Linked DNA regions of Homo sapiens. The protein of the gene in region 1 purifies or fractionates together with the protein of each later gene. This does not show direct contact. Each region holds a gene or a part of one and is shown in the gene's direction. Other genes may lie near its edges.

What was found. The genes of interacting proteins can lie anywhere in the genome.
Region 2: the proteins of DRG1 (region 1) and DNAJC2 purify together in Homo sapiens (affinity purification with mass spectrometry; 2 studies listed by BioGRID and IntAct, with this or other methods). This does not show direct contact.
Region 3: the proteins of DRG1 (region 1) and PHF14 purify together in Homo sapiens (affinity purification with mass spectrometry; one large-scale study listed by BioGRID and IntAct). This does not show direct contact.
Region 4: the proteins of DRG1 (region 1) and SERPINB12 purify together in Homo sapiens (affinity purification with mass spectrometry; one large-scale study listed by BioGRID and IntAct). This does not show direct contact.

Annotation. Positions count from the first base shown.
Region 1 is NC_000022.11:31,406,002-31,409,622, forward strand, and holds part of DRG1 (developmentally-regulated GTP-binding protein 1), read left to right. Parts: intron 1-3,621. UniProt on the Homo sapiens protein: Catalyzes the conversion of GTP to GDP through hydrolysis of the gamma-phosphate bond in GTP. Appears to have an intrinsic GTPase activity that is stimulated by ZC3H15/DFRP1 binding likely by increasing the affinity for the potassium ions.
Region 2 is NC_000007.14:103,317,188-103,320,808, reverse strand, and holds part of DNAJC2 (dnaJ homolog subfamily C member 2), read left to right. Parts: intron 1-964; coding exon 965-1,053; intron 1,054-1,130; coding exon 1,131-1,200; intron 1,201-3,621. UniProt on the Homo sapiens protein: Acts both as a chaperone in the cytosol and as a chromatin regulator in the nucleus.
Region 3 is NC_000007.14:10,972,657-10,976,751, forward strand, and holds the start of PHF14 (PHD finger protein 14), read left to right. Parts: upstream 1-1,215; 5' UTR 1,216-1,667; coding exon 1,668-1,668; intron 1,669-2,178; coding exon 2,179-2,289; intron 2,290-4,095. UniProt on the Homo sapiens protein: Histone-binding protein. Binds preferentially to unmodified histone H3 but can also bind to a lesser extent to histone H3 trimethylated at 'Lys-9' (H3K9me3) as well as to histone H3 monomethylated at 'Lys-27' (H3K27ac) and trimethylated at 'Lys-27' (H3K27me3).
Region 4 is NC_000018.10:63,555,828-63,559,448, forward strand, and holds part of SERPINB12 (serpin B12), read left to right. Parts: intron 1-314; coding exon of another isoform or gene 315-332; coding exon 333-500; intron 501-2,524; coding exon 2,525-2,659; intron 2,660-3,621. UniProt on the Homo sapiens protein: Inhibits trypsin and plasmin, but not thrombin, coagulation factor Xa, or urokinase-type plasminogen activator. May play a role in cell differentiation.

The DNA of each region.
Region 1 (3,621 bases):
TTTTCTTTTTTTTTTTTTTTTGAGACGAAGTCTCATTGTGTTGCCCAAGATGGAGTGCAGTGGCACAATCTCGGCTCACTCCAACCTCCTCCCGGCTTCAAGTGATTCTCCTGCCTCAGCCTCCTGAGTAGCTGGGACTATAGGTATGTGCCACCATGCCCGACTAATTTTTGTATTTTTAGTAGAGACGGAGTTTCACTATGTTGGCCAGGCTGGTCTTGAACTCCTGACCTCATGATCTGCCTGCCTCGACCTCCCAAAATGTTGGGATTACAGGTGTGAGCCACTGCGCTTGGCCACTTACCTGCTTTTTGTTACTGTAGATTAGTTTACATGTTAAGAACTTTACATAAACAAAAACCACATATAAATATAAATGCACTTTCTTTTCCATAGGCTTCTTTCATTCTGCATAATTTTGCATTCATGTTGGTGAGCTTTTAATTCTCTCTCGTGGTCTTTTTTTCTCTCATTTTGTATAAACTTTTTGAGCTTGGCCAACATGTTGAAACCCTGTCTCTACTAAAAATAAAAAATTAGCCAGGCATCTTTAATACCAGCTCCTAGGGAGGTTGAGGCAGGAGAATTGCTTGAACCTGGGAGGCAGATGTTGCAGTGAGCCGAGATCGTGTTACTGCACTCCAGCCTGGGCGACAGAATGAGACCCTGTCCCGGAAAAAAAAAAAAAAAGTTGCAAACATAGTACAAAGAGTTCTCGTATCACTTGCCTGCTTCTCCTGTTGTTAACATCTTACATAACCATAGAAAAATTATCAGAGATAGATGAACATTTCTGCAACAGTATTCACTAAACTATAGATCTTATTTTAATTTTTACCTGTTTTTTCCACCAGTGTCCTTTTTCTCTTCTAAAATTTTTATCTAGGATCATCCCATGATGCATTTAGCTATTTCTGTCTATTTGTTTGCCATCTGCAGTAGTCTCTGTCTTATCTTTTGTGACCTTGTCACTCTCAAAGAGTAATGATCAGTTATTTTGTATAATGTTCCTCAATTTGGGTTTGTGTGATGTTTTCTCTTGGTTAGACTTATTAGGTATTTTTGGCAAGAATACCACAGAAATGATACTGTCTTTCTCAGTGCCTCCTACCATGGGATTCATATTGTCAGTATGTCTTATTGGTGATATTGTCCTCCATCAATTGGTTATGGTTGTGTCTGTAGGGTTTCTCTAAAGTTACCTTTTTTTGGACAGTTAATATATATTTTAGGGGAGATACTTCAAGAAGATGCAAATCCTGTTTTTCCTCAAACTTTTGCCTGCTCATTTTCGCATCCATCTGTGGGTCTTGTCTGTAACAGTTATTATTGTACTTTTGCCTCATGGTAATTCTCCCTCGCTCTGTCACCCAGGCTGAATGCAGTGGCACGGGTACGATCATGGCTCACTGCAGCCTCGACCTCCTGGGTTCAAGTGATCCTCCCACCGTAGCCTTCCAAGTAGCTGGGACTATAGGCATGCACTACCATGCCTGACTAATTTTTTATTTTTTTGTAGAGACAGAGTCTCAATATGTTGTCCAGGCTGGTCTTGAACTCCTGCACACAAGCAGTCTACCTGCCTCAGCCTCCTGAGGTGCTGGGGTTATAGGCATGAGCCACTGTCCTGGGCCTGAGTATGTTCTTTTGTTTGTTTTATTTTTATTTTTTATTTTCATTTTTCTTTTTTTTTTTTTTGAGTACGTTCTTGAATGGAGAAGTTGAACTGTCTCGCACCTGCTAAATCAGTTTTCATTGCAGTTTATTTAATGCAAAGTATATTTCTGTAATTTCTTATATTCTTAGAGCAAAGCATATCTGATTTAAATTATGTTTTGGTCAGGCGTGGTGGTTCAAGCCTATAATCCCAGCACTTTGGGAGGCCGAGGTGAGCGGATCACCTGAGGTCAGGAGATCGAGACCAGCTTGGCCAATGTGGTGAAACCCTGTCTCTACTAAAAATACACAAAAAAAATTAGTGGGGCATGGTGGCGGGCACCTGTAATCCCAGCTACTCGGGAGGCTGAGGCAGGAGAATTACTTGAACCTGAGAGGCAGAGGTTGCAGTGAGCCGAGATCACACCACCGCACTCCAGCCTGGGTGATGGAGCGAGACTCCCCTTTTTTTCCTTCTTTTTTTTTTTTTTTTTTTTTTGAGATAGAGTCTTGCTTCATTGCCCAGGCTGGAGTGCAGTGGTGTGATCTCAGCTCACTGCAACCTCTGCCTCCTGGGTTCAAGCAATTCTCCTGCCTCAGCCTCCTGAGGGAGCTGGGATTACAGGTGCCCGCCACTACGCCCCACTAATTTTTTTGTGTATTTTTAGTAGAGACAGGGTTTCACCATGTTGGCCAAGCTGGTCTTGATCTCCTGACCTCAGATGATCCGCTCACCTTGGCCTCCCAAAGTACTGGGATTACAGGCTTGAGCCACCATGCCCAGCTGAGAATCCCTATGAAAAAGCAAGGCCAGACACTGTGTCTCATGCCTATAATCCCAGCACTTTGGGAGACTGACGCGAGCAGATCACTTGAGGTCAGGAGTTCGAGACCAGCCTGGCCAACATGGTGAAAACTTGTCTCTACTAAAAATACATAAAAAAAATTGGTGGGGCATGGTGGCGAGCACCTGTAATCCCAGCTGCTCAGGAGGCTGAGGTGCGAGAATCGCTTGAACCTGGGAGGCGGACATTGCAATGAACCAAGATTGCACCACTGCACTTCAGCCTGGGCGATAGAGCGAGACTCATTCTCAAAAAAAAAAAAAAAAAAAAAAAGATATTTTAAGTGATGTTTTAATAAGCTGCATCTGTTTTCAGTTCATTTATGTGTATAATTCAGTATTTGCCATACAGTAGACCCTTGGTATTTTTAGATTTTATATTTGTTTTAACTGTTTTGACTGATTCTTAAGGGCAGTCAAATTAATAGTTTATAATTTTGCTGAGATGTAAATTTGAATCACATGTGCTGTGGGGTTGGTTTTTCAATCACATCATTAGGTACACTGAGTTCTGTGAAGTTTTACCTTACTGCATTTCCTGGGCAGTTGAGCAGTCATTTTTATCTTTTTAAAATCTTTTAAAATTTATTTATTTATTTTTATTATTTTTTGAGATGGAGTCTTACTCTGTCGCCCAGGCTGGCATAATCTCGGCTCACTGCAACCTTCGACTGTCGGGTTCAAGCCATTCTTGTGCCTCAGCCTCCAGAGTAGCTGGGATTACAGGTGTGTGCCACCATACCCGGCTAATTTTTGTATTTTTTGTACAGACGGGGTTTCACCATGTTGGCTAGGATGGTCTCGAACTCCTGAGCTCAAGCAATCTGCCTGCTTCGGCCTCTGGGAAAGTGCTGTGGAATTATAGGTGTGAGTTACTGGGCCCAGCCTGAGCAGTCATTTTTTACTGGGGACATACATCAGAGTCACTTGTAAAGCCTTTTGAAGTACAGATCCCTATCTGTTGGCCCTTCAAATCAGAATCTGCAGGGATGGGTTTCAGCTCTCTACATTTTAAAAGTTTTTCCAGGTGATTCGGTTGTGCCTGCTTAAGAACGGCTACAAAAATTTTTGTGAGTTGGGGATTTGCAGAAATTGCAATATGTATCATATGTAAATATCAA
Region 2 (3,621 bases), on another chromosome or scaffold:
TATGAATATAGACACAGTTTCAGAATATATATATATATATATATATGTGTATATATATATATTTTGTGACAGAGTCTTGCTCTGTCGCCCAGGCTGGAGTACAGTGGCGCAATCTCCGCTCACTGCAAGCTCCGCCTCCTGGGTTCACGCCATGCTCCTGCCTCAGCCTCCCGAGTAGCTGGGACCACGCCCGGCTAATTTTTTGGATTTTTAGTAGAGACGGGGTTTCACTGTGTTAGCCAGGATGGTCTCGATCTCCTGACCTCACGATCCGCCTGCCTCGGCCTCCCAAAGTGCTGGGACAGTTTTAGAATATTAACTTGTTTTTTGGTTTGATAATGGTAAGATGATTATGTTTAGAAAAAAACTATCAGGGTTGAAAACTGAAATATGTACACCTGAAATTTAGAAAAAGTTAAAAACAGCCGGGCGCGGTGGCTCACACCTGTAACCAGCACTTTGGGAGGCTGAGGCGGGTGGATCACAAGGTCAGGAGTTCAAGACCAGCCTGGCCAAAATGGTGAAACCCCGTCTCTACTAAATATAGAAAAAATTAGCCAGGTGTGGTGGCAGGCGCCTGTAATTCCAGCTACTCAGGAGACTGAGGCAGAAGAATAGCTTGAACCCGGGAGGTGGAGGTTGCAGTGAGCCGATTTCGTGCCACTGGACTCCAGCCTGGGCGACAGTGAGACTCCGTCTCAAAGAAAAGAAAAAGTTAAAAACATTTACACTGAGATAAAATTATACCTGTTCAGTTGTCATTGTCTGTTTTTTTGAGATGGAGTCTTGCTCTGTTGTCCAGGCTGGAGTGCAGTGGCGTGATCTCAGTTTGCTGCAATTTCCGCCTCCAGGTTCAAGCGATTCTCCTGCCTCAGCCTCCCGAGTAGCTGGGATTACAGCTTTGTAATTATGTTGATGGATGTATTTTTGAGTGTAGATACTATTTTTGTGTTTGTGCTTTTAGACCTGGAATCATTTTTCTGATAATGAGGCAGAGCGGGTTAAAATGATGGAAGAAGTGGAAAAACTTTGTGATCGGCTTGAACTGGCAAGGTATACCTATGGAACTGCTATTGAAGTCTTCACTTGAGCTTAGGATAAAGTTTCATTTCTTCTTTTTTTTTCTTTAGCTTACAGTGCTTGAATGAAACACTCACATCATGCACAAAAGAAGTAGGAAAGGCTGCTTTGGAAAAACAGGTAATAGAGGAACACATCACTCCTACCTATATGTAGCATTTAATTCTGCTTTGACCTGTTTCTTCACCTAATATATAAGTCACCAAGTGCAGGGAGTATCTGATTTCTCTTTATGTTTCCCACTGTTTTGTTGTTGTTGTTTTATGTGTTCGGTTTTTTGGTTTTTTGTTTTGAGACAGAGTCTTGCTCTGTTGCCCAGGCTGGAGTGCAGTGGCACGATCTTGGCTCACTACAACCTCCGCCTCCCGGGTTCAAGTGATTCTCCTGCCTCAGCCTCCTGAGTAACTGGGATTATAGGCGCACAACACCACACCTGGCTAATTTTTGTATTTTTGGTAGAGACAGGGTTTCACCATGTTGGTCAGGCTGGTCTTGAATTCTTGACCTCATGATCTGCCCATGTAGGCTTCTCAAAGTGCTGGGATTATAGGTGTGAACCACCACGCCCAGCCTGTTTTTGTTTTTGTTTTTGAGATGGAGTCTCTCTCTGTCACCCAGGCTGGAGTGCGGGTGGGATTACAGGTGTGTGCCACCATGCCCGGCTGATTTTTGTATTTTTACTAGAGACAGGGTTTCGCTGTGTTGGCCAGGCTGGTCTCAAACTCCTTACCTCAAGTGATCCGTCCGCATTGGCCTCCCAAAGGATTATAGGCATGAGCCACCATGCCCAGTCTGCATTTTGTTTATGTAGTAAGGTGCTGTTGTTGATTTAAGTTGGATTAGATGTTTATGGTTTTTACCATACTTAGTGTTTGATTTGTGGTATCTATCACAAGCATAGCTTTTGCAAAATCATATTAGAAAAAAATAATTGTTTTGATTATTCCTTGAGTATTTTCATAGGGTAATAACAGTTAGAACCAAAAGAGATCTTTGTTCTGTCTAGTCTATACCTTTTATTTTACAGATAAGAAAACAGGCCCAGAAATTCAATTCAATTCAACAAGTATTAGTACCTACTATATATAGCACTATGCCTAGGTTCTTTTGGAGAAATGCCTAATGCTGTTGCACCACAAAGGACATGCTGAGAAGAACCTGAGAAGAACCTTAAGGACCAAAAGATGGAGAGCCCATAGTAAATGAGGTGTAGGATAGGAAGGGCCACAAGTTTTAGTGACCAGGGAAGGCTCAGTGTAGTTTGAACCAGCCTGAAAGGAAGGACAGAGTTAAAATGAAGGTCAGAAGAATACCACAAACTATAAAATAGAAGTAGAAGTATAAAGTATGGTTCAGCCTGGGCAACATAAACAAAATCTCTACCGAAAATACAAAAATTAACTGGCATGGTGTCGTGTACCTGTAGTCCCAACTTCTCAGGAGGCTGAGGTTAGAGGATTACCTGAGCCTGGGAGGTCACAGCTGCAGTGAGCTATGATCATGTCGGTGCACTCCAACCTGGGCAACAGAGCGAGACTTTGTCTCAAAAAAAACAGACAAAAAAAAAATGTTATGGGGAAATGGAGTGGGAAACAAAATCAGTTAGGAAAAGCAGAACCAATGATCAGGTTTTTAATACCTTGTTGACTAGTTTCCATTACTGCAAATCTTTGATTAACAGAAGGTTCAACATTGTACTACTAATCTGACGTTTGTGGATAAGGTGCATCAGATAGATGTAACTAGTTACAAGAATCTTATTTATTTAAGAATCTGCACTATGAGCGTGGTGGCTCATGCCTATAATCCGAGCACTTTGGGAGGCCAAGGCAGACAGATCCCCTGAGGTCAGGAGTTTGAGACTAGCCTGGCCAACATGATGAAACCCCATCTCTGCTAAAAATACAAAAATTAGCTGGGCATGGTGGCAGGCATCTGTAATCCCAGCTACTTGGGAGGCTGAGGCAGGAGAATCACTTCAACCTAGGAGGCGGAGGTTGCAGTAAGCAGAAATCACACCACTGCACTCCAGCCTGGGCGACAGAGTGAGACTCTGCCTCAAAAGTAAGAAAGAAAGAAAAAGAACCTGCACTATGAATGTGATGATGGGAATCAAAAAAATTTTTCAAGGTTAGCATTATTGGGACTTTACTGGTTCTAAGGGATTGAAGGGGAGAAATGAGCCAAAGCTGACTCTTAAGATAGCAGCTGACAGAAGCAACAAGGGCAAATAAAGGTTCTTTTTTTACTTGTGCATGTTTGAAGGTAGTCTAGAAGGAACAATGTAAATGGTAGAGCTTCAAAATAAAAGAGGCCATTTTGCTATGCCTTCACCTTTTGGTAGAGAATAAATGAGATTGTCTGCAGAAAGGGTGAATATGAGTTTGAAGAGAGGTTTGAAATGGCCTTGTGGATGAATAACTCAGTGACCCACAGACTTGTCAATTAGTGTCCAAGGCTAATGGAAGTCACATGACATGAGTACTGGGAAAATCAGGCAGGCTGTGGGCAGTTCTTGGTCCCTCAGGCAGACCTATGCAG
Region 3 (4,095 bases), on another chromosome or scaffold:
CTGCAGGGTAACTGTTTCTATTTCAGATGAGGAGGTAAAAAGAATGGGCATTGAAAAGGAAAAATGTTTACTAAGTAGGTTATACATTTTGGAATAGAAGTTTCTATAGCACAATAGAAAAGTTTGAGAGGTCACATGGCAATGATAGTTTGGGTGAGAGTGAGGCAGGAGAATAGGGTGTGGAGGCAGGGAACCTAAGGATGTGTCACTCCGACTTCCTAAGAACTAAATTGAAAGGAAACCCCTAACTTTCCATGCCTAAGTAACAAAAGGACCAGAGGCTACTCCCTTTGCAAACCCCCACTTTTTCTGCAGGGCAGATGGGAAATTGGCTGTGGGCAGCAAATCAGACTGATTGCAGGAGAGTCTTCCTTTGCATAGAAGTATCACTTTGTAACTTCACCATCTGCAAGAAATCAAACTGATTGCAGGGGAAATCTTCCTTTGCATAGAGGTATACCACTTTGTAACTTCACCCTAGCCTCTGATTGATTGCTTTTTGCACCAATGTTTGCACAGGAGCATGACCTTTGTAACTTCACTTCAGCCTCTGGTTGGCTGCTTTCTGCAACCAATCAGACTGATTGCGCGTTACTTCATTTACATGAGGTGAGCATTAGGTGGCCAATAGGAAGCTTCTAGAGGGTATTTGGACTCAAGATTCTGTATCCGGGCCCTTGAGCCGCTGCTCAGGTCGCTTCCGTACAGAGCGTGCTTTAATTTTCAATAAGTCCCTGCTTTTGTTGTTTTGTTGCTTCATTCTTTCTTTGCTTTGCTGGGCGTTTTGTCCAATTCTTTGTTAAAAACGCCAAGAACCTGGACAACTTGCAGTCACGATCCTCTACCGGTGACAATATCATTTAAATATTGGTAGTGGCTTAAGGTAGCAAACATCCCTTTGTGGAACGTTTACTCAGTAAATCCTTAAAAAACAGATCAGAAACAAAAACTGGCCTCCCAGGGATTTGGACTCAGGAGGTGAATTAGGCGCGGAGAGGGCGGAGCCTTTGGGGTTTATGGGCGGAATTGCACAGGGTTTGGCGGGGATCTCTGCTCCGCCTTGGCACTACTCGGCTCCGCTCGCCTCCGCGCGGCTCCCTGGGCTTTCACTCGGCTCTGTTCGGCTCCTGCTCGGGAAGGGTGCGCGGGGGCGAGTCCTGCGCATGCGCCCTCAATTCCTGCTGCTCTCAGGGCTGCGCTCAGCCTCGTGTTTTCACTTCCTTTTCAGAGCTGTATCCGGGTCGCTGCTTTCCCTATTGTCTGAGGCAGCCGCCCTCGCGCTGTGCAATTTCTGGTCTTTCGTTGCTTCTGGTCCAGGCTAATAAAGTTTTTCTTTCTTTAATTTTTTTTCTTCTAGTTTTAACGGGAGAAATTAACTCCCCGGGGCCGCCGGGTTGACTGCGCTGCCTGGGCCGGAGGTCTTCTCCGGCCAGGGAGCGCTGTGGGAAGGGGCTCGAGCGGCCAGGGCCAGGCGAGGCCGGGGGGGCGGGGGGTTAGGGGACCGCGGGGCTACTCTTGGGAGCGCCCCTGTCCGGCTGGCTGCGCGCCGGTTTTAAATAGCATCTTTCGGACTTGTCTTCGCGGCCCCAGTCCCCGACCTCGGCGCTGCCTGGGCTCCTGCAGCCTCTCCCTAAGTCTTCTCCAAACGACCACCTCACGGATTCCTTAGTAAGTGTATCCGAGGCCTCTGCGGCGAGAGGTCCATTTCAGCCATTCTAGAAGTCAGGGCCGGTGGGAGCAGGGCAGGGGTGGGAGAGTCCTGCGGGAAAGCAGGATTGGTGGACCCTCGCCCTCCATGGTCCGCGGGAATGAAGCCCGCTTGTTTTATTCCCTGATTTTTGCCGTTTTTATTGACTGTTACGATGTCTAAGTGGGGGATTACGAGGAAGGTGCAGAAACATCTCGAAAAGATGAGCAAGAGGGTCAGCTTCGATTTTAGCTGGTCTGAGTTGGCGTTGGCAGCATCAGGGCTGGAGCTGCCTTTGAAACTGCCCGTGGAGCTGTCCAGCCCTCCCCACCCTGCTTCTGCACCCCAACCTTCTCCTGACCCCTTTTGCTGAGAACTCAGTTAGACAAAAATTCCTTGTGCGAGGTCATCTTTATGTTCTCTTAGCACCACAACTCTCCCCTGTGTTTGGTGTGATTATGAATGACAATGTAATTTTTTTCTCTTCACAGTGGATCGCAGCTCCAAGAGGAGGCAGGTGAAGCCTTTGGCAGCTTCTCTGCTGGAAGCTCTTGATTATGATAGTTCAGATGACAGTGATTTTAAAGTTGGAGATGCCTCAGGTAAATATTTCCTTCTCTCTTCCCCTTTCCCAGCTTTCTGGAGTTAGGCTTATTTTTAGACTTTTTAAATCGGTTTTGATTAAAATGCCAATTTTAAGTGAAAGCACGTAAACTTCATTTATTTTGTCCATTTGATTTCCCATTTTGCCTTTAGATCCTGTCACTAGACCTATAATTGCTTCTGTTTTCCTCAGAGATAATTAGCAGTCAGGGGAAGGACTTTTTCCAAAGATGCAAAAGGATTTCTCTGTTTTACACCTTAAAATATATTTATGCTTATATTATAGAGGAAAAAACTGAAAGATATCCCGAAGTAGAAAAGTATCCTGAGAGGTGTGTGGACCATTAATAGTCCCTGAGCAGGGTTCTTCTTTTTTCAGATCACTTGACAATCTCTTAGGGGAGTTTTGCTTTTTTTGTGTATTAGCTCTTTTACTAGAATAAAATTGACCAGAGTAAGAGTTGCACTTCAAATTATAGTAGGTGCTGGACCTTGTGGATTGGGCCTTTCAGATGTCTCTGAAGTATAAGTCATGCATGCTTGCTCACTATATTTAGTAATTTTAAAAACTTTTTTTAAAGGTCGTATATTCACATTGTACTAAACTGGAAAACAGAAAAGTATGATTTTCCTTTGTATTTTCTGTTCAGTGTACCTTATGTATATATACAGTTTCAATTGAAGGAATCTGAGAAACAAAAATTATGTTTAATTTAAATGTTTTATGGGAAAAATACTGATAAACATGAACAATGAAAATTATGTGTAATTCCACCTCTTTTGAAAATTTTAATAAAGTGAGATGAAAATTTAAATAAAATGAGAAGTAAAAGCCTTTCCAGTTTCATCTCTTCAACAGTTTTTAAATATACTTCCAGAGAGTTTGCCGTGGTTAGTCACATCTCTCCTTCTTCTGGTTTTCCCTTGTCTTTTTCCTGCTAGGGATAGTAGGAAGGGATGAACGAAATTATATTACTGTTGCTACTTTTAGTAGCATCAACAGCAGAATTTGCATTGTGATTTACTGATAACTTTTTGTTTGCATAATCTCACTTAATTTTCACAGTAACTTAGTGAAGGAGATACCATTTTACAGGTAACAGGGGTATTGAGTTTAAAGAACTGGCATGAGGTCACTCAGGCAGTAACGGATCCAATGGATTTGACTTCAGAATTTAGTCTGTTTATCTGCTTGGATCCCAAGAGTTGATGGACGGAATCTTAAACAGAAACTGACTATTTGGTTACTAATTGAATTCATCCGCAGCAATCAAAAATTGATAAGTTTATCTTGATTAACTGTTTTTTTATCCTTTGCTTCTCAGCTCTTTATCTCCCATTTAGTTGGTTTGCTGATATTTGGTATTTCCAAAGAAGGGAAGGGGAAGGGAAAGGAGGTAAAATTTAAATCTTAGTTCTCTTGGTAAAGACCTTGGCAGATAAGAATATTCCTGGCTAGGATGTAGTTTTGGTTTGTTATGGTTGTGGTTGTAAACTTTGACAAACATAGTTGGGTCGTGGAAGTTACGAATTCTTTGAATATGGGAACAATTCTAAAACTTACATTAAGTATTACATTATTATGTGACAATAAATCTTGACTTTATGGACAATTTGTTTCCAAGGTTTGTTCATTGAGATGGAATATTCACAGGTATCACTTCTTTTTCAAGTGGTAAAACAATCTGATACAAACATAAAGTACTTTCTCAAAATATTTTATGATATCGAGCTAAGTAGAGATTTCTGACCTTGTTAAATCCTAATTATAGTTGAAGAGAACTGTTATTTGTGAAAAATGATAG
Region 4 (3,621 bases), on another chromosome or scaffold:
TCTTGATTTTGGACGTTTGTCCCCCAGAACCATGGGAGAATAAACTCCTGCTATTTAAACCACTCAGTCTGTGGTAATTTCTTATGGCAGCCCCAGGAAACGAATTCACACTACTAAATGAAAATAGATCTCTGTCTATCAATATCAACACCAATATTTATATACAGGGATGATAATGACCTTAGTTTTCCAGTTCTTAATAGCATACTGAATAATTGTGCATGATTGTATTTCAGGTATGTAAAATAAAATTGTTTGTTCACTTATTTTCTTCCAATCACCATTTTCTCTTTCTCCTTTTTTTTTGGTTTTAGATCGTTATAAGTTTTACAATGGACTCTCTTGTTACAGCAAACACCAAATTTTGCTTTGATCTTTTTCAAGAGATAGGCAAAGATGATCGTCATAAAAACATATTTTTCTCTCCCCTGAGCCTCTCAGCTGCCCTTGGTATGGTACGCTTGGGTGCTAGAAGTGACAGTGCACATCAGATTGATGAGGTACGTGTCCACTAGGGTGCTACACAGGGTCCTAAACTCTGGGTCCACACTCAAAGTCAGACCCTAATCCCACTTAGGCAAGCCAAGGGGCTTATTGCACCCTGGGCTTGGTCAGAACCCATCCCTGTCTCTGAGTCTTTATTTGTATTTTCTCCATCTTACTTCCTCTTCGATCCTACCATTCTTAAAGTCTCACTTAAACTTGTACCTTCTTTAGGGTGCTCCTCAACTTCATGTCTGGCAGCTTTTCTCATTCATCTCTATCTTTATCTCTGTATGCATGTCTGTCACTCTTTTACTCTATGATTGCTAATACCAATATTGCTAGCGATTTTTAGTATGTGTATATGTCTTCTGTCTCACTCATTTCATTAAATAAATATTCATTAAGTACCATATATGGTTCCAGTGGCTAGAGAGCTTGGTGTCCTCCTGGACTCTTTCTCTCTCACTTTATACCACATTTGTTAGAAAATTCTGTTGGCTTTTCTTTTGAAAGATATCCATAATCCAGGCACTTCTCCCAGTCTCCTTGAGGTCTGAACCACAACCATCTTTTCTCACCTGGATACTGCAGCAACTTCCTGATGGGCTTTCCTGCTCTCACTGGCAATCTATCCTTTGCACAGCAGTCCAAGAGACCCTTTTAAAACCTGAGCCAGATTCTATTTCTCATCTGTTCAAAAACCTGGATTTCTTATTTCACTCATGATAGCAGTTCAAGTCCTTACAATGGCCCACAAGGATCTGGAGATCTGAATCCCAGATAAGCCCTGTGACTCCATCTCTCACTTTCATCCCTCCTCACTGTACCTGTCACATTGGCCTCCTGGCTTCCTTGGGTAAGTCATGCCCATCCTATCTTGGGGCCTTTGCTCTCGGTCCCTTTGCCTGATGGCTCTTTCCCCTGGTAACTGACCTCAGCTCACTTTCTTCTTCAAGACTTTGATCAGTGTTTATCTCCTATACGGGGCCTACTTTGACCTCCTAATCTAGTGCTGCATCCTGACCTCCAGACCATAAGGGATACTTTTGTAGGCACCTAATAAACATTTCTAGAATAAATAAATGAAGGTAATAAGAACAAATCCCCAAATAAACTACAAGTTCCCATGGTTGGCCTTATACTTCCTTGGATGTAGCACATAGTGCGGGGGTTATGCACAACTCAGGCTGTTTCCCCTGAATATGGAGCAGTAGAATTTATGGATTAAGACAGAATGTGTTTCTGGGGTCATTCTGCTTTATTCATCTACTAAGATTTGGTGTATTATTTTCTTATTCCATTAGCAAAACTTAGCTTTAGAGTGTGGTTTGCATCTTGCAGGGCAGAATTCAGATGTTCTTTCTTAGGCAGTTGAGGGCACCTGCTGACCAAATGGGTCTGAGTAGTGCAGGATATGACGCCTGTCTCCTACCTTTCTACCAGGCTCTGGATAACTTGTCTTTTGCTGTCCTCACTCCCTTGATTCATGTGAAACTCTAGATCAGCACTGTCTGACACAAACATAATGAGAACCACATAGTAATTTAAAATTTTTTAGTAACTGTATTGCAAAAGTAAAAAGAAACAGGTGGGACTAATTTTAATAATAATTTTTTAACCTAGTATATGCAAAATATCATATCCACATATCATCAATATAAGAATTTTAATGAGCTATTTTATTTATTTATTTTTTTATACTATATTCAAGATCTGGTGTGTATTTTGCACTTACAGTCAATTCAGATTGGGTATCTATGAAATGCTCCATAGTTACATTTAGCTTGTGGATACCTCTATGTTCTTTTAGTTTGGTTATATTTATTCATAAATGCTCTCCCAGGGTAGCGGTTGGTTCTTCTCCTCGATTCCACCTCCCAACCCAAGTACAGAAGCACCCACTTTCCTTTAAACTGTTGTTGATTGTTTTGTTTGACTATGTAATCATTGCCATTGTCTCATTATGAAATGTTTCTGAAGTTATTCAGGCTTCCCTCTGTTCATATTATCTGAAAGACCCCATCCCGTTATCATGCAGGTACTACACTTCAACGAATTTTCCCAGAATGAAAGCAAAGAACCTGACCCTTGTCTGAAAAGCAACAAACAAAAAGTGCTGGCTGACAGCTCTCTGGAGGGGCAGAAAAAAACGACAGAGCCTCTGGATCAGCAGGTGAACCGCCACCGTAGAAAACTCTTGCCTTTCTTTTTTACAAACTGCTTATTCTGGCTGTAGGATATTTGGTGATAGTTGCTTATCCCCAAATATTAGACTCTGGATACCATCAACAGCAATAACCTCATGTGATCTGTGATTCCTGAGTATGGATCTCAGATGTCCTTGGCTATCAGCTAGTTTCCTAAAGAGTAGGATCTGGTGTCTTCTGCTTATGATAAAGAAGCCTAGATCATCACTCTGTCCCTCATCTGCTTCTATAGGCCACAGGGCCCCAACACAGAGTATGGTCAAAGATAAAGGTGGTAAGGGGTAGGGTCAGCTGTGGAATTCTTACTGTCTCCCTCTATCTCTGCTTGTTCCATTTCGTGCTGAAATCTGCACTGACAGACAAAACTTTTATTGGTTGCCTCATGCCAGGAGGAGGAAAGATATTATCCAGGGTATGCATCCCCCTACTTTAGAAAGTTTAAGAGGAGGGTGGATAGATGATTGTCTTTCTTTCTTTCCTTCCTTCTTTCTTTCTTTCTTTCTTTCTTTCTTTCTTTCTTTCTTTCTTTCTTTCTTTCTCTCCTTCTTCTCTCCTTCTCTCCTTCTCTCTTTCTCTCTTTCTTTCTTTCTTTTTGTTTTTTCTGAGATGGAGTTTCGTTGTGTTGCCAGGCTGGAGTGCAGTGGCGCAATCTCAGCTCACTTCAACCTCCGCCTCCTGGGTTCAAGCAATTTTCCTGCCTCAGCCTCCAGAGTAGCTGGGATTACAGGCATGAGCCACCATGCCTGGCCTCTTTGAAATGTAAAGAAAATCAGAGTGTGTCAGTCTGAAATATAGTGAGCGTTGCTGAGTTCCCCAGATGTATTTTTCCTGGATGATCTTGATATAGATGTGGGAGCCATAATCTTCCACTGGGACCACTTCTCACCCTCCATTCCTCTGTTCTTCCCAGCTCACTTCCCCCAGCATG